2 separate regions of the Homo sapiens genome follow, and region 2 is linked to region 1. The links come from fine-mapping of genetic effects on gene expression. A gene starts in region 1. The other region holds a variant in brackets. All regions are shown on one strand. Distances are from middle to middle.

Region 1 (5,376 bases):
TTTCTCCCTCTGTTGCCCAGGCTTGAGTGCAGTGGTGTGATCAAGGCTCACTGCAACCTCCGTCTCCTGGGTTCAAGCGATTCCCCTGCTTCAGCCTCCTGAATAGCTGGGACTACAGGCACGCACCACCACGCCCAGTTAATTTTTTTTTTCTTAATTTTAGTAGAGATGGGGTTTCATCATGTTGGCCAGGATGGTGGGTTTTTTGTTTTGTTTTGTTTTTTTGATGGAATCTCGCTCTGTCGCCCAGGCTGGAGTGCAGTGGCGTGATCTTGGCTCACTGCAAGCTCCACCTCGCGGGTTCACACCATTCTCCTGCCTCAGCCTCCTGAGTAGCTGGGACTACAGGCACCCGCCACCATGCCCGGCTAATTTTTTTTGTACTTTTAGTAGAGACGGGGTTTCACCGTGTTAGCCAGGATGGTCTTGATCTCTTGACCTTGTGATCCTCCCACCTAGGCCTCCCAAAGTACCAGGATTACAGGCGTAAGCCACCGCTCCCGGCCTATGTGCATCATTTTTTAAGACAGCATTGACACCAGGACCCTGGGCTGAGTCTTTCATCTCTAAGACGAACTTGCAAGTTCCATGGGAACAGGGACCACACAATGTATTTACTTAATTAATTCTGTTACAGGGATGTGATATTTAAACCAAACTTAAAAGACAGAAGAGGACAGCCAGGCAAAAGACATTGGACACATATTCCAGGCAGAGAGAACACCCTTCAGAAAGGCCCCGAGGAGCAAGAGAAGTAGAATATTTAAGGATCTGAAAGCAGCTCAAGTGACCAGAGCAGCAAGCCAGAGGGATGAGGCCTGGAGATGGGCTGTACACACCACACCCGGCCTGAGGTCTCAGCGAGGGCCGTGCTTTTATCTGCAAGCCACAGGGAGCCAACCTTCCAGGGCAAGTGACGGGCCAATTCTCACTTTCAAAGATGCAGGTGAAAATGGACAGCGGAGACACAGAGGCGAGTTAGGAGCCCAAGCAGGGTTTAGGGGAGAGAAGGTGGTGGCAGAGACTCCTCTGTCTGTGCACCTCCCATCACAGTGTTTTACACGGCACACACAGACATGGATTTATTGCAAATTGGGCAAATGAAGTTATTCTACTGGTTGCTTTTCTACATGACCAACTCAGGCTTAGCTGCCCAGCTTTTTCTTTTTCCTTTGAGAAGGTAATTCCGTGGCTTTTTTTTTCCTTTCTTAACCTGAAAGTGTCCCGGTGTTTGATTTCATGGAGCAAAATAAAAACCCTGGAGGAATACACATGCCACAGAAACGCCTTGAGACAAAAAAACGTTTGGCTAATAGTTTTGGTATTTTCTATGCCTTCCCCGGTATGCAGGAAAGTCACAGCAGTGTGATACAAAGGAGTGTATGGTGATAAAAAAGCGCAGGCCCAGGGACCTCTGGAAACTGGGCTGGCGGTAGAGCTATGGGGCAATAGCGTTCTCAGTAGTAGGCTGCCTTGTCATGGGAGGGCTGGAGTGAGGGCCACTGTGCGGAGGGAAAGCGACCGTGCTCTGGGGTGGGGGTGGGAATGGGGAATAAAACAGAAATAGAATCTGCGGTGAGAGCACCACCAAGCCACCCAACCCCCACACTGGGGAGACAAAGGGCCCTCTGGGGAGGGAAGGTCCTGGCCCACCTCCTTGGAGGGCGCCTCTGGGCGGTCCTGGCCTGCCCAGGGGCAAGGAGATGGGCCTCACAGCGATATTGGCTCTCCCTCAGCTCCTGCATCCGCCGGCGGAGGGTTTCTCCGCTTCCCTAGCCCAGACCTAAAAGGGTCACCGCTCCCAGGCCCCTGACTGCGCCGGGAACCGCTGGGTGGAGGGTGTCGACCCTGCTTCCTGCCCTCAGCCCGTCCATCGCGCCAGAGAATGCACCAAATTCCCCAATCCTTGCCCTCCCCGGGGGTCCACATCCGCGGGGCAGGACCAACGCAGCCTCTCGGGGCCTTGGCGACTTACCGCTGGGGGCCCGCAGTGCAGCAGGGCGCGGCCGCGACAGGCTCGGGCACCGCGTCGGAGCGCGAGCCGCGCTCAGCACCACGGTCAGCTCCCGGCGCCGCGCGCCGCGGCCGGGAGGGGGAGGCCCGGCGCCCGCACCCACCCACCGCGGCTCCAGGGGCCCCGCGGGGTCGGGCAGGCGAGGGTTAAGCCGCCAGAGGCCAGCGGGAGGGGCGGGCCGGCGCTGGCGCGCAGGGGTGGCGAGGGGGCGCGCCGGCCGCGGTGGGGGCTGCTCCGCCAGGCTGCCGCCTCCCTGCGCCGCCGCTCGGGCCGCGCTCGAGCCGGCTTTGTCTGTTCGTATCGCCCCGTCTCTGTTTCTGGGTGTCTCTGCCTCCCACCCGGTTGCGGCTGCGCCTCCCTCAGGTGCAGTCGTCTCCCCTCGCCCCCGTGCGCACGGCGCCCCCGCCGCTGTCCCCTCTTCCGGGAGCGCACAGGTGTGGGAGCCCCTCCCCCTCAGCCCAGAGAGCCAGCCCAGCCCTGCCGACCGCAGCACTCTCGGAAGGGCTCGGCCACCCGGAGCCTCGTCACGAGTCTTACCCAGGGTTCGGAGCGGGCCTGCAAGAAGGGGCAGGCCAGGCTGGGGCTGCAAGGCAGGGTCTTCCCTTGGAGAAGGGACCTGACTCTATTATTAAGAGAACGAAAGAGGCACTTGCCCTACAGGTACTCACTGTGTGGGGTCTACTGGTGCTGTGCTCTGCCGCAGTCTTGAGGGAGGAGCAGAAATGCTGTGGGGACTCTGTCTCCGCAGAACTGAGGACGAGGGGTCTGCACGCGTGGTTCAGTGCCTGGGGCTGGGGTGGATTAAGTAACTCCAGGAAGGCTCAGGCAGCAGTGCCAGTAGTGTGGGGCGGGGTTGTGGGGAGGAGGGGGGAGCGGGAGCGCACAGTCGGTGCTGGGGAGAGGCTGATGCCAACAGGAGGCTCTCGGCCGTGGTGTGCCCAGGCGGGGCAGGACGGGAGGATGCAGGAGTCCCGGGTCCACGCTGAGGCTAAGGCTGAAGGGAAGGCAGAGCTCAGGTGGATGACGGAGGCCAGGCCTTTCCCTGAGCTTGGTGGGCTCCCTCCCGGTCACCTTGTCTGAGAACCCAGGACACAGAGTCCCCTTGCTTTGGACTGGTTTGGTTTGTCATTCCCCTTGACATCGCCTCGCCCCAGAGACAAGAGGCCCCTTCATCCTCCAGCCAAGACCTTCCCCACCCTTGGGTGACCTACCCTCTTGCATTTTTTAGATTTGAGCCCTCTTTCTATGCAGCGACTAACTCAACGTGACCCCAGAGGCCCCCTCGCCCATGTTGCTGGTAGTCTTGACCTTTTTTGGCAGATCCTGGCTGTGGGAGTTCCCTGTCTTTCTCTTAGGTAGGACAGAAGGCAGTTTCTGCCTCGTTGCCACATACACCCCAAGTCAGGGGTAGGACTCCCGCAGACCCCACAGTCCTCCTCTTGTTAAAATTAGTAAGCATTAGCCTTCCTTATTAGGCTCTCCCCGCTTTTGCATTTAAGGATTTTTTAATGTGTCTTATAAAATCATGTAATTGTGAGGATAATTACAGATTCAGCTTCTTCCAGTGAGTGACAATTGCTCATTTTCGATGCTCACATGGTCATCGTTCGGCCACTGCAAACTGTTCCAACCCTTCTACTTTGTCATTTCAGACAGTTTTCAAACACCCCTAACTTTTGGGTAACATGAAAATATATATTTCAAATTTTTTATTTCCCCAAGATGTGGGATCAGGTCTTCCCCAGGGACTCCTGGAAAAATCTTTTACACTAGGCTACCCAGTTCAGATACCACTGAATGATTTTTCTTAAATATTATTCTAATGTGAACTTACATTTTATTTTTACAATACACTGACTTACACGCCTGTAATCCCAGCACTTTGGGAGGTCCAGACGGGCGGATCACAAGGTCAGGAGATCAAGACCATCCTGGCTAACATGGCAAAACCCCCTCTCTACTAAAAGTACAAAAAAAATTAGCCAGGCATGGTGGTGGGCGCCTGTAGTCCCAGCTACTCAGGAGGCTGAGGCAGGAGAATGGCGTGAACCCAGGAGGTGGAGCTTGCAGTGAGCCGAGATTGTGCCACTGCACTCCAGCCTGGGTGACAGAGCGAGACTCTGTCTCAAAAAAAAAAAAAAAACAAACAAAAAAACACACACAAAACACTGACTTAGATTTCTCATCTGTGTTTTTGAGCAGTGGCTGTAAACCTTTTCTTTCCTGGAACTAGCTTTCTGGTCACTTGGTTGTCCCCAGGGTCTCAGACCTTCTGGCCACACCACCCCTTGCTTTCTTGGCAGGCCAAAGAGTTGACTGTGGGCACAAATGAGTCGGCCATCCACTGTGCCAGTCACGTCAGCTGCATTTGTGGGGTACCATCAGACCTACTGCTTTGAGCTGTTTCTTTTTCTTTTAAAATTTTCAATATTTAAAAACTTTTTTATTTCATATTTCCAAACAGTGAACAGTTGGTTTCTTTTTCTTAAAAAAATTTTTATCTTATTTTTTGAGATGGAGTTTCACTCTTCTTGCCCAGGCTGGAGTTCAATGGTGTGATCTTGGCTCACTGCAACCTCCACCTCCCGGGTTCAAGTGATTCTCCTGCCTCAGCCTCCTGAGTAGCTGGGATTACAGGCATGCAGCACCACGCCTGGCTAATTTTGTATTTTTAGTAAAGACAGGGTTTCTCCATGTTGGTCAGGCTGGCCTCAAACTCCCAATCTCAGGTGATCTGCCCTCCTCGCCTCCCAAAGTGCTGGGATTACAGGCGTGAGCCACCACGCCCGGCCGGTTTCTTTTTCTTTATTGTGGTAAAATATACATAATATGAAATTTACCATTTACCCCTTTTTAAGTGTACAGTTCAGTGGCATTTACACTCACACTGTTGTGCAACCATCACCACAGTCTATTGCCAAAACACGTTCCTGACCCCAACAGAAATTCTGTACCCATTAAGCACTAAAACTCCATTCTCCTCTCCCCGTAGCTGCTGGGAACCACTATTCTACTTTTCTCTGATTTTGACCACTCTAGGTACCTCATAGAAGTGGAATCATACAGTATCTGTCTTTTTGTGGCTGGCTTATTTCACTTAGCATAATGTTTTGAGGGTGTATCCGTGTTGCAGCATGTATCAGAATATCCTTCCTTTTTAAGAGTGGATATTATTCCATTGTGTGTAGAGACCACATTTTGTTTATCCATTCATCTGTCAATGGACCGTTTGGGTTGCACCACCTTTGGCTATTGTGAATAATGCTATTATAAGCAGCAATGTACAAATACCTGTTTAGGTTCCTGCTTTTGGTTCTTTGGAATATAAACCACAGAAGTGCCATATTGGAGTCATAATGGTT
Region 2 (5,376 bases), 23 kb before region 1:
GGGAGGGCCTGGTGGGAGGTGATTGGATCATGGGGGCAGTTTCCCCCGTGCTGTTCCCGTCAATAGAGTTCTCACATTCTGCTTGTTTGATAAGTGGGTGGCTCTTCACTCTTCCCTCTTTCTCTCTCTCCTGCTGCCATATAAGATGTGCCTGCTTTCCCTTTGCCTTCTGCCGTGGCTGTAAGTTTCCTGAAGCCTCCCAACCCTGTAGAAGTGTGAGTCAATTAAACCTCTTTTCCTTGTAAATTACCCAGTCTTAGGTAGCTTTTGTTTGTTTGTTTGAGACGGAGTCTCCCTCTGTTGCCCAGGCTGGAGTGCAGTGGCGTGATCTCAGCTCACTGCAAGCTCTGCCTCCCGGGTTCATGCCATTCTCCTGCCTCAGCCTCCCGAGTAGCTGGGACTGCAGGCACCCGCCACCGCGCCTGGCTAATTTTTGTATTTTTAGTAGAGATGAGGTTTCACCTTGTTAGCCAGGATGGTCTTGATCTCCTGACCTGGTGATCTGCCCGCCTCAGCCTCCCAAAGTGCTGGGATTACAGGCGTGAGCCACCGTGCCCGGCCAGTCTTAGGTAGTTCTTTATAGCAATGTGAGAATAGACTAATACAGTCCCATTTTCTCTTTCTGCTCCTTCTGGTAATTGCATATATGTTACACTTTTTGATCTGTCTCACAGTTTGGATGCTGTATTCTTCTCTGCTCTTCCCTGCACCCACCTACCCAGTTAATTTTCTCTTCGCATTTCAATTTTGGAAGTTTCAATTCTCTGTCTTCATACTCACTGATTTTTTTTGCTTTCTTTTTTATTGTGGTGTAATATACATGACATAAAATTTACCATTTTAGTCACTTATATGTGTACAATTGAGTGGCATTAGGTACATTCACAATATTGAAGCTGAATTTGCAAAGATTATGAGAGCACAAGAAGTCTAGCATGGCTGACTCCATCTTGCTTCTAGCCTCACAGGCTGGCTGTCCTTACTCATTTCTGGGTGTAGGCCAGGCTAACCGTAGGAAGAATTTAATTTATAGTTTAACTTTGAAGCAAGGATGATAACAGTCCCTCCCTAAAACTAACCTTCTCTTTGCTCAGGGATCTAAAACCACCTTTTTATGACTATTGAAAGAGACCACAAGATTAAGATTATGAGAGCAGCCTGAATTCTGCTAAGATGTAGGCATAACTTGCCTTTCTATAGTCATTTACTGTGCTGGAGGTCACAAGATTTATAATGTTCCCAATTGCTCCTATAGATAACATCATTATTGTAGAGCCTAAGATTGGCCTTTGGTACTGTTTTTCAGACTTCTGCATTCTGGTGACCAACTGACTCCACCTGGACCCGTGATTCCTGACTCAACAGGTCCTGTGGCCCCCACCCAGAAGTTGACTTAGCACATGAGGACCATTTTCCACATCCCTATGACTTCATCCCCAGTCAGCATCATCCATTCCCTAGCCCCCTGCCTGACAATTTATCCATAAAAACTCTAGCCTCTGAATTCTCAGGGAGGTTGATTTGAGTAATAAACTCCATCTTCCAATTGGCTAGCCCTGTGTTAATTAAACTCTTTTTTAAATTATTTATTTTATTTTTGCTGCAAAACCTTGCTGTTCTCAGTGCATTAGCTTTTCCAGGCAGTGGACAAGATGAACCTGTGGGTGATTGCAATATTGTCAAACTATCACCACTATCCAGTTCCAGAACTTTTTCATCACCCCAAACAGAAACTCTATACCCATTAAAAAGTCACTCTATTCTGCCCTCCCCACTAGCCTCTGGTAACCACTATTCTACTTTCTGTCTGTATGAAGTTGCCTATTCTAGGTACCTCATGTAAATGGAATCATGCATTTGTCCTTTAATGCCTAGCATAACATCTTCAAGGTTCAACCATGTTCTAGCATATATCAGAATTGCATTCTTTTTTATTCCATTGAGTGCTTATATCACATTTTATTTACCCTTTTTTGTGTCGAAGACCATTTGGGTTGTTTCCACCTTTTATCTATTGTGATTAATGCTGCAGTGAAGAATGGAGTATAAATATCTTTGTTGAGTCTCCACTTTCATTTCTTTTAAGAATATACTTAGGGATAGAATAGATGAGGTTTTTTCTATGTTTATGGTATAGTATTGTGTATTTTCTATGTCCAAGATTATGGTAATTTCTTTCTTTTTTTTTTTTTTTTGAGACAGAGTCTCGCTCTGTTGACCAGGCTAGAGTGCAGTGGCACCATCTTGGCTCACTGCAACCTCCGCCTCCCAGGTTCAAGCAATTCTGCCTCAGCCTCCCAAATAGCTGGGACTATAGGCGCATGCCACCACACCTCGCTAATTTTTTTTTTTTTTTTGTATTTTAATAGAGACAGGGTTTCACCATGTTGCCCAGGCTGGTCTCGAACTCCTGAGCTCAGGCAATCGCCTCGGCCTCCCAAAGTGACAGGATTACAGGCATGAGCCACC[G/A]CGCCCGGCTGATTATGATAATTTCTATGTTTCATTTTTGAGAAACTGCTAAGCTGATTTCCACAGTGGCTGCACCATTTTACCTTCCCAACAGGAATGAACAAGCGTTCCTATCTTCCCATATCCTTGCCAACAATTATTTTCCATTTTTTATTCCAACAGTCATCCTACTGGGTGTGAAGTGGTACCTCATTGTGGGTTTTGTTTGTTTGTTTTTTGAGAAGGAGTCTCACTCTGTCGCCCAGGCTGGAGTGCAATGGCATGATCTCTGCTCACTGCAACCTCCGCCTGCTGGGTTCAAGCAATTCTTCTGCCTCAGCCTCCCGAGTAGCTGGGACTACAGGCGTGCACCACCACGCCTGGCTAATTTTTGTATTTTTAGTAGAGACAGTTTCACCATATTTGCCAGGCTGGTCTCGAACTCCTGACCTTGTGATCTGCCCACCTCGGCCTCCCAAAGTGCTGGGATTACAGGCGTGAGACACCGCGCCCGGCCCTCATTGTGGTTTTGATTTGCATTTCCCTAGTAATCAGGGATAAGCAAATATGCATGTTTTCATGTGCTTATTTGGCATTTGTGTGTCTCCTTTGAAGAAATGTCTATTCAAGGCTTTTGTCTATTTTTTAAAGTTGAATTATTCGTCTTTTTGTTGTTGAGTTGCAGTAATTCTTTACATATCCTGAATATTAATTTCTTATGAGATTCGTGAAGTGCAAATATTTTTTCCCATCCTTTAGGTTGTCTTTTCACCTTCTTGATAGTGTCCTTTGATGCACAAAAGTTTTTAATCTTGATGAAATTCAATAACTGTTTTGTTTTACTGTTGCTTATATTTTTGGTGTCATATACAAAAAATCATGGCAAAATCCAACATCATAAAGATTTCCCTCTCTGTTGTCTTCTAAGATATTTATAGTTTTGGTTCTTATGTTTAAGTCTTAGTTCCATTTTGAGTTAATTTTTGTATATGGCATAAATTAAGGGTCCAACTTCATACTTTTCATGCAGATATCCAATTTTCCCAGCATCATTTGTTGAAAAGATGGCCCTTTCCCCATTCAATGGTTTTGGCAACCTTGTCAAACATCAACTGACTATAAATTGAGGGCCACTATGTCTGTCCTTATGCCAGTAACACCCTGGTTTTGTTATAATCTGTCATTTTGTTTATAATTATCAAAGTCTTATGATCACACACAATTTCTAAATTAATGTATATCTTCTCCACTTTAATCCTTCTAATACATTGACAAAAGCACCATTACCAATCACACGTACACAGTACTTCTACAGTTTTACGTGCTTGAATCATTTAAAGGCAATCCTAAATTATAACTTAGTCAGATTTAGATAGCAAAGAATTCAAAAGTAAATTTTACCTTACTACTATTTCTTGTTACACTGATTTTCAGAAGCATCTGACTTTATAGATCATCTATAAAATTTGAGAAGTGTTTTAACTATTCTTTATTTGATATTACACATAAAATGCATTTCAATTAGTAAAAGGCAGCATTTTAGATCCAGGGAATTCTAATTGGATTGGCATAGTTAAGACCAAAAATATAAAGTAGACATTGCTGTCTTATCTTCAGCCCTTGCCTTTTACAGGGTAATGAACACAAATTAAAACATAGGTGAGTCTTGCTTGGTTCTGAGACAGTATTTAAATATATTCATAAAGACAGTTATAGAACTCTAAATATAAAACCAATCCCCAATATGTTTTGAGACGGCATTCACCACCTTTATGAAAAGTTGAACGTTACTAATGAAGTCCAATCATATCTTCAGAAGGGGAAAACAGTGATAACATTTACTGAATTGAAATTACTATCAAAGTTCAAAAAAACAGTCATATTCATTTAACCACAAGCTAGTGTGACTTAAATCAGGACTGTCCAACAAAAAAGGTCTGCCACTCATTCATGATCTAAATTCTGGTGTATGAGATCAATTAAATTTTGGTGCACATGAAGTTATGAGACCTTTGTTTTGTAATAAATAAAGGCAGTGGCCAATTATTACTCATTAGTGGCTTTTTTGAGATAAGTTATCAAGTCTGTTCTTTCTACCTTCTTGTTAATGCCAGTGAAGACTGTTTTTGTTCCAAGGATGTAATTCTCTGGATTCTTCAAATACTCCACCGGTGTCTCCTCTCCCCAGGTGATGCTGTGTTCTGTTGGCGTCTGTGTAAGGGGATCCAATGGCCTGACCTGGCTGCTGCCCAGAGCCCATGGAGTTCTGGCCCAGTCTGTGCTTGCCTCTTTTTTCCACAGTGTGGCACTGGGTACCCTTGTGAACAAAATCTTCTTGCCTTTTACTACGTTACTCCTGTTAAATTCTCTCCTTTATCACTCACACTATGAAGATTCCCGCTTGGAAGCTGGCTAATGCTTCTCTTAATAGCACCTTGTTGTGATTACATAGCTTTATAGTAAGTTTTCACATCCGCAAGTGTGAGTCCTCCAGCTTTGTCCACACTTGTGGTCATTTTGGCTATTTGGGATCCCTTGAGATTCCATATGAATTTTGGGATGAGTTTTTCTATTTCTGGATAAAAAATCCATTGGGACTTTTATGGGGATTGCATTCAATCACTTTAGTTAGCGTTGTTATTTAACAATATTAGTCTTCCAGTACATGAATGTGGGATATCTTTCACTTATTTATGTCTTAAATTTCTTTTAGCAGGCCAGGCACGGTGGCTCACGCCTGTAATCCCGGCACTTTGGGAGGCCCAGGCGGGCGGATCACGAGGTCAGGAGATGGAGAACATCCTGGCTAACACGGGGAAACCCGGTCTCCACTAAAAATACAAAAAATTAGCCGGGCGTGGTGGCGGGCGCCTGTAGTCCCAGCTACTCAGGAGGCTGAGGCAGGAGAATGGCGTGAACCCGGGAGGC

Direction of the effects. Alleles are on the strand shown, and positions count from the first base shown. SD is a standard deviation of normalised expression in the study named.
With allele A in place of G in region 2, the expression in pancreas of the gene that starts at base 2,817 in region 1 is lower (small effect, 0.38 SD a copy in GTEx).

What was found.
Region 2: its variant is fine-mapped to the expression of AMER3 in pancreas (GTEx, PIP above 0.99).

The regions. Positions count from the first base shown.
Region 1 is chr2:130,752,981-130,758,356 of GRCh38, reverse strand. It overlaps AMER3 (APC membrane recruitment protein 3), which reads right to left and starts at 2,817. Exons shown (of 2, transcript NM_152698.3): 1 at 2,683-2,817. LOC124907890 (a long non-coding RNA gene) reads left to right here and starts at 2,475. Exons shown (of 2, transcript XR_007087239.1): 1 at 2,475-2,674. RefSeq lists enhancers at 1,160-1,663, 2,542-3,041.
Region 2 is chr2:130,776,076-130,781,451 of GRCh38, reverse strand. LOC124907891 (a long non-coding RNA gene) reads left to right here. Exons shown (of 2, transcript XR_007087240.1): 2 at 1,307-1,546. It also overlaps the pseudogene CYCSP8. Among named protein-coding and RNA genes, the nearest start is that of AMER3, 23 kb to the right of the region's middle. The variant G/A (reference allele first, on the strand shown) is at 2,470.